2 linked regions of the Homo sapiens genome follow. The protein of the gene in region 2 binds, or shares a complex with, the protein of the main gene of each other region. Each region holds a gene or a part of one and is shown on either strand. Other genes may lie near its edges. A codon is read from its position in the direction of its gene.

What was found. The genes of interacting proteins can lie anywhere in the genome.
Region 1: the proteins of PTPN3 (region 2) and MAPK12 are in contact, whole or in part, in a crystal structure (PDB 4QUM), measured with the Homo sapiens proteins. Residues at the interface, in NP_002820.3 of Homo sapiens: Arg655, Leu671, Asn674, Arg675, Tyr676, Lys677, Asp678, Val679, Arg751, His812, Ser843, Ala844, Gly845, Ile846, Gly847, Arg848, Met883, Gln886, Thr887; in NP_002960.2 of Homo sapiens: Met182 (codon at 2,666), Thr183 (codon at 2,669), Gly184 (codon at 2,672), Tyr185 (codon at 2,675), Val186 (codon at 2,678), Val187 (codon at 2,681), Arg189 (codon at 2,687).

What each region holds. Positions count from the first base shown.
Region 1 is NC_000022.11:50,255,079-50,258,825, reverse strand, and holds part of MAPK12 (mitogen-activated protein kinase 12), read left to right. Parts: intron 1-524; coding exon 525-583; intron 584-1,632; coding exon 1,633-1,744; intron 1,745-1,861; coding exon 1,862-1,891; intron 1,892-2,179; coding exon 2,180-2,227; intron 2,228-2,626; coding exon 2,627-2,741; intron 2,742-2,944; coding exon 2,945-3,016; intron 3,017-3,131; coding exon 3,132-3,211; intron 3,212-3,294; coding exon 3,295-3,373; intron 3,374-3,455; coding exon 3,456-3,629; intron 3,630-3,747. UniProt on the Homo sapiens protein: Serine/threonine kinase which acts as an essential component of the MAP kinase signal transduction pathway.
Region 2 is NC_000009.12:109,491,589-109,495,335, reverse strand, and holds part of PTPN3 (tyrosine-protein phosphatase non-receptor type 3), read left to right. Parts: intron 1-3,747.

The sequences.
Region 1 (3,747 bases), on a different chromosome or scaffold from region 2:
ACCGTCACCCCAAAATGCTGAGGCGGCAGTTGTCACATGACCTGTCTACTGTCTATCTCCCCAACCAGGGGTGCTGAGGGGACCAGGTCTGGTGGGTCACGGTGCTGTCCGCCTGGGCCTCACCAGCAGAGGCCTGGCCTCTTTCCATAGCGCTGTCCCCACCCTGGGCCTGGATCTGTTTGGTTGGGGTGAAGAGGGGTGAAAGGGTCAGGCGGCAGGAGCCCTTTGGATGGTTCGGAGCCATCCCAGACTCCGGGTTGCCCCTCCCCCAGAAGATCCCGGTTGTCACCGTCCAAAAATAACCTTTCTGTGGGTATGTGTGCCAGGGCTGGGCCACACTGCCAGTGGGTATGTGTGCCAGGGCTGGGCCACACTGCCAGTGGGCAGAGCCAGGCCCTTTGGACAGTGGGGCATGACAATGACAGCTGCAGAGGGGGTTTCCTGCCCAGAGGGTTGTGCCACTCTTGGGGGGTGCCCCAGCCCGTGTCCTCTGCTGCATTCTCAACCCTATGTGGCCCCCCCAGGTGATCGGGCTGCTGGACGTATTCACTCCTGATGAGACCCTGGATGACTTCACGGACTTGTGAGTGCCGACCTGGGCTGGCCGCTGGGCACGAGGGGTGTTGGGCAGCTCTGGGCACTGGCTTCAGGTTCTAGGTTGGCAATGGGGTTCTCTTCCTGCAGCCTGAGTGGGGGATGCACACCGCCCACCCCCTCCCCATACCACTGTCCACCCCACGCCCTCCCCCACATGGTCCTGGGACCCACGGGCACTGGCACAGCTGGGCAGAGCTGGGGCTGCTGCCTCTCTCCACGCCTGGCACCTGGGCCCTCTCCAGCACCGGAGGTGTGAACCTTGGACCTGACCATTTGTTAACAGGAAGGTCCCGTGCTCGGGACCCTGGCACCAAGTGTGTGGCCGGTAACTGGAGCTGCTGACCTTTTCCAGCGGGTGGGGGAGAAGCGGTAGGGAGGACCCACCCTGCCCCTGCCCTGCAGCCGACCACCCTGGGACTCACACCCTGTCGGCCAAGAGTGAAGGGCCAGGCCGAGGAAGGCCTGGAGAGGGTAGCAGGCGCCTCCCGCCTGACTTGCAGAGGTCAAGTCAGTGGCCTCTGGGAAGGTGCTAAATACCATTCTCCTGTGTCTGTCTCCACCGGCCCAGCCGACCCCTCTGACCCAGATGCCTTGCCGCGCCCCCATCGCCCCCAGGCACCTCCCTCATTTCTGGCACAAAGTTGTGAAGTTGAAACCTGACTGCCTCCCTCCCCTGCCTGTGAAGACTCGAGTCCTGCTGCCTCTACCATGGAGCCTCAGCCCCTAGCCTGGCACGCAGGGCGCTTCAGCGGAGGGTTCAAAAACCCCAAGGCAGCCTCCTCCCTGCCTGACAGTCCTCAGGGTGGGAGGGGGGTGTGAGCGCTGCTGGCAGTAACAGTTGCGGGAGGATGGAGCCTGGCACTGCAAGGTGGGGCTGCGAGGACACCGAGGCCAGTGTGGATGTGTGCTGCAGGGGTGACCTTCCTGGGGGTGCCTGTTGGATCCGGGACGGGTCTGAGCCTGGGCCTGCTGGGTGGGTCTCTGGGATGCAGAGGCTGGCTCTGTCCGCTGACAGCGCTCCGGCCCCTCCCACAGTTACCTGGTGATGCCGTTCATGGGCACCGACCTGGGCAAGCTCATGAAACATGAGAAGCTAGGCGAGGACCGGATCCAGTTCCTCGTGTACCAGATGCTGAAGGGGCTGAGGGTACGGGCCCCGGGGGAGGCTGCAGGGAGGCAGGCAGGGCCTCGGGGCTGGGCAGAGGAGGGCCCTGTGGCTCTGAGAGGGTGCGCTGAAGCCTGCCAAATCCTCTGCCCCCCGCAGTATATCCACGCTGCCGGCATCATCCACAGAGTGAGTCCCGGTGGAGAAGCCGCTCATCAGCCCTCCCCCAGTGCAATCCCCCCGCCTCCACGTCCCACCTGTGAGGATGTGATGGGGTCTGGGTGCTGAGCCACGCCCTATGCACAGCCCCTGGTGGGAACCTGCCTGGGTGCCCAGGTACCTTGGTCTGCCCTTGAAGGGCTGCAGAGAGCAAGGGGGCCAGGTCCGGTGGCCCCATCTTTAGGTGCCACCCAGGCTCTTGGCTGTGCCCATGCTTGGGAGGGTGGGGCACAGTGGCCACCTTTCCTCTGCCCCCAGGACCTGAAGCCCGGCAACCTGGCTGTGAACGAAGACTGTGAGCTGAAGGTGTGTGCTGCCTGGCAGGGGGCCCTGAGGTGGGGCAGGGGCCCCCTCTGGATCTGCCCATCTATCCACCTGTCAGGCCTGGGCAGGGGGCCAAGGTCCCAGGCTCTGGGCAGTGGCTGAGGAGCTGGTGGGTGGGTGAGCCCAAGAGGCAGTGGTACACAACATGCCGTACCCAGGGCACCTGCTCCGTCCCGAGGGCTGCTGGGCTTGGTGCACTGGCCAGAGGGAGGAGCTCGGGGCAGTTTGGGGTCCGAGGGCGTGGCCTCAAGTCCTTGAAGGTTGTCAGGAGGCCCCAGCTTGGGAGCTTCAAGTCCAACCCCCCGGGGTCTCCTGGACCGTGGGTGGCCTGTCCGCTCCTTGGGAGTCCCCTAGAACCCACCTCCCCAATTCTTCCCACAGATCCTGGACTTCGGCCTGGCCAGGCAGGCAGACAGTGAGATGACTGGGTACGTGGTGACCCGGTGGTACCGGGCTCCCGAGGTCATCTTGAATTGGATGCGCTACACGCAGACGGGTGAGAAGCTGCCCAGAGATCTGGGCCTCTCAGGCTGCACCATCTGCTTCTCCACTTCTTCACGGACAGCCCTGTGGTGGCTGCTCCCAGGGAGGCTGTTGAGCTGGGGTGGGAGCCGGGCAGGTGGGCTGTGTTGGTGTCTCCTCCCTCCCCGTCTCATCCTGTCCCCCTGCCCACGGAGCTGACCAGGGCTTCTATCTCAGTGGACATCTGGTCTGTGGGCTGCATCATGGCGGAGATGATCACAGGCAAGACGCTGTTCAAGGGCAGCGACCGTATCCTCCAGCCGCAGGGCGGCACCAGGGGCGGGTGGGGATGGCTCCTGCCCAGGTGGGGGCAGTGGGGGCCCTGATCTCTGGCCCCCGAGCTGTGTTCCTGACCTCGGTGCAGACCTGGACCAGCTGAAGGAGATCATGAAGGTGACGGGGACGCCTCCGGCTGAGTTTGTGCAGCGGCTGCAGAGCGATGAGGTAAGGGGTGAGTGGGGAGCTGGGTGGGGGTGGGGGCGGACCTGGGCCTTGGTGTTGGCCCCTCACCCTTTCTTCCCACACAGGCCAAGAACTACATGAAGGGCCTCCCCGAATTGGAGAAGAAGGATTTTGCCTCTATCCTGACCAATGCAAGCCCTCTGGGTACGGCTGGCTAGTGTGGGGGCCACCGGGTGCTGGAGTGTGGGGCCTCCCGTGGTCTGGCCTGATGCACCTTCCCCCGCAGCTGTGAACCTCCTGGAGAAGATGCTGGTGCTGGACGCGGAGCAGCGGGTGACGGCAGGCGAGGCGCTGGCCCATCCCTACTTCGAGTCCCTGCACGACACGGAAGATGAGCCCCAGGTCCAGAAGTATGATGACTCCTTTGACGACGTTGACCGCACACTGGATGAATGGAAGCGTGAGTGGGGGGCTCCTGGCACGGCCTGTGTGGACCCAAGTGGGGGGCTCTGGGCAGGGCCTGTGTGGACCTGTGAGTTGGGGGCTCCGGGTAGGGCCTGTGTGGACCCGTGAGTTGG
Region 2 (3,747 bases):
TGGTCCCTACATCTTTTCCCAGGAGAGCTCACCTTCCAGCATTGCGGTCCTGGAAAGCAGGGACAATGCCTCTTTATCTTTTCCCAAGATCTGTTGTAGAAGCTGGAATGCTGAAGGCACCCAGCACATACCCTGGTCTGGAAGGGCTGGTGGGGGTGCAGTAGCCTACCCAGCATCAGCTCTTCATTCCAACTCTAATAGAGACAGGAGGAGACCAGGTCAGTGTCCACACTGCTCTTGGCTGGGTCCAGGTGACCTCAGAGCCTGATCTTATAGATGTCTTCTTTCCTCTGGCCGAGAAGGACCTGAGAAGTGCTTGGTAAGCCCCTGGCTGAAAACTGATTTGGTAATGGGTTCTAAGACCCAGAAATGTTGCATCTCCAGAGCTTCTGCTTGTGTGTGCACCTGAAGCTTCCCACTGCCCCCAGGTTAACTTGTTATTCCAAGACCAGGTGTGAGCACAGATTTAACAGCAAATTGAGACATTTATTGAGTCTCTACCATGTATTAGGCCATAGGGCTACAGAGGTGAACGCTGAACCCCTGCCTTGGAAGGATTCATGGTGGATTTGGAAAGACAGTTTGTATATGTGTATGTGCGTCCCCATCCATCTGTCCATGGTCCTGTAAGTACTTTAAAAGGATAAGCTAGGTGCAAGAGACACCAGAGGATGCAGCCATTCATTCCGATGGGCATCAGGAGACACTGTGGAGCGTAGTTCTAACCATGGGGAGAAGTTAGTTCTAACTTCAAGGCATAATTTGAATTAAGCCTCAAACTTAGGAACAAGATGGCATTTAGGGCAGGCAAAACAGCAGGGGCAAAGGCATGAAGAGACTTTGTGGATCATAGGCGTGGTGATTCTTCTCCAAGTCCAACCTGGTCTTTTTTGTTTTTTGAGACAAGGTCTCACTCTGTCATCAGGCTGGAGTGCAGTGGCCCGATCATGGCTCAAGCAGTCCTCCTTGTACCTCGCACCTGGGACTACAGGCATGTGCCACCACACCCAGCTAATTTTTTATTTTTTGTGGAGACAAAGTCTTACTATGTTGCCCAAGCTGGTCTCGAACTCCTGGGCTCAAACAGTCCTCCTGCCTTGGCCTCCCAAAGTGTGGAGATATAGGCGTGAGCCACCGCACCCAGCCAAATCCAGCCTCTTGGTGTTCACTAATGCAGAACCCACCTGCTCTGGTTCGGGTCTGCTTTATCTCTGTACATGGGCCAGGCCTCACCTAGCCCAGGGCTAAGTGCCTATTCTCCTTGTTTTCACCTGGATGGGAGCAATGCCACTGTGTTGTCTTTGAGGCAGGAGTAACTTCTGCAGGGATGCCTCTGGTTTTAGTTATCAGCACTAATCTGTACTTATTGGTTGCCACACACTGTTGTGAGTGCTCTCCAAATAGTAACTTAATTCATTTAATCTTCACAGCAACCCTGTCGCCAGGCTGCCTCCCAGGTACAAGTAGGTGGGGGCTGAACTCCTCTGCCCAGTGTATGTCCCTCTGTGGGTGATGCTCTGATTGTGGCCCGGCCTCCCCCTGGCTGCCTTTACATAGATGTGCCGGGAAACAGCCCAGTCTGAATTGCAGTGGAGCACTGACCCCATTTCCTTTAGGGGACCGGCAGGACTGTGCTGACTGCGTTTTCTGAACCAAAGAACGGGATCTGTAGTGTGAAAAAAGAATGTGTGTGCCACTGCTTTGTGCAAGAGGAGGCCTGAGAAGTGTTTGGATACTGAGAGAGTGGAATTTTTGAAACATTTTGATGGTTTATATGGAAAGTTAGGACAGAGGATTTGAAATTGGAATAGTCCTGGAAAATTGAGGTCCCATGATTTACTGTTAGGATACACAAGCTTTTAGTAAATGTTTAAGCAGTGTAGAGTGAAGTGAATTTTTTTTACTGAGCCCCCATAGGGAACAAACAGTGCATTTTAGCCTCAAAATCTGACTGATTCCTTCCAGCCCCATTTTACAGAGGGGGTGAGAAAACTGAGGCTCAGAGAGATGAAGTAACCACCAAAGAGCACAGTGTTTGTAAGCAGTGCAGCCGAGATTTGTCTTTTTGGTTTTTGTTTGTTTGTTTGTTTTTTAAATATAGAGAAAGGGTCTCGCCATGTTGCCAGGCTGGTCTTGAATTCCTCGGCTCAACTGATCTTCCTGCCTCAGCCTCTCAAAGTGCTGGAATCACAGGCGTGAACCACTGTGCCTGGCTGCAGCCAACATTTGAACCCAAGTCTGTGCCTAGACAAATCATCTGTTGTCAAAGTCAAATAAAATATAAAAACAGATGTTTCTCTAAATTTAAAACATTTTGCTTGGGAAGTAAGAATAATAATTTGGGAAATCTATACAGACTAGGTGGTCTTTGGTTTGGAAAACAAAGAGAATGTTGGGAGTTTTATTAGAATGAGAAATATTATGTATTGTTTTGAAAAAAGTCCATCGGCACTAGAGAAGCTCTTCGGGAGCTGGCAAGCTCTGATTGTTGCATGATGGTAGCAGATAAAACTAGTCTTAGGGTCACAGCAATTTGTTTCAGTAGTTATTAAATAAAACTGGTTTTAGGTTATAACAGGCAGTTTTAGCAGCCACGCTTGCAGAGAATTACATTTTTGGAGCAATGTTATGTGCCCTGAGTATTTTTCCCCTGGCCTCTCAACTCTGATTTAGTTGGGCATTACAATAATGACCCAAATTGTATAATCAACTTCCACCCTGTAAAATGAGGATCATAATTGCACCTATTCCCTTTAAGTTGACTGTTGTCAATGAGCTAATGTGGAAAACTAAGGCAAAACTTGGCATAGAAAAGGGGTCCCTCACTTTGTGGTCAGACCCCTGACCCTCCAGACAAGTGCTTTGATCTGTGTTCAGTGCTGAGAGTCGCTGTGGGTGAGTGAAGGTCCCTCCTCAGCCAGGACCACAGGTCCCGGTTCTCAGGACTGAAGGGATATTCCAAGAGGGAGCATCCAGGACTGTGCAGGGGCCATGGCTGCCTGAATGCTGTGCTGATGAGGGTCCCCTGGCGTAGGAGTGGGGTTGGAGACCTGGCCCATGCATGTCACCTCCCTCAGCCACATCAGCTCAAGGGCTAGCCCAGAGGTTCTCGGTGAGGGAGGCAGCAACCAGCTCCATCAGCTGTTTTTTGACCGCCAGCCACCATTGGGCCTGGGGAGGGGAGGTTGGCCTCTGAGCTCAGTCTTCCCCACTGGCTCCCCCGAGTCCCCTCCCCTGCTCTGGTTATCAAATGCATTCATGGTTCTTGTAGAAAATAAAGTGTCAGGGAACACAAGAAAAATTATGCATGATGCTTCTCTGAAAGCAGCTGGTCCACTGTCAGCACTGCCATGATCTGCACATGCCCTCTCCTGCTTCCAGTGGATTCTCTACTCCACAGACGGGGGAGTCTTCCATACACTCCTATTTTTCTCAAAATGAAGACAAAGCTGATCTCTCAGCATCTCCTGCAGGCCCTATGTTCATGCTCTTTGAGCCCTCACCTCACCGTGCTCCTTCCTGCTGCAGGGACTGCAAGAGCCTGGGACCTTCTCCCCCTCCCCACTGATTACTTCATCCTGTGGGTCTCAGCTCCATGATTGCAGAGCCTTTGCTCACCTTCCTGACTTGAGTTAAATTGTTGCTATAAATGTTCATGCCACCAGATCTCTCTCCATTATAGCACTTTTCCTAGTGGCAATTTTGCAGTTAATTAATGTAATTATTTGTATTAGTACCTGTCTCCCG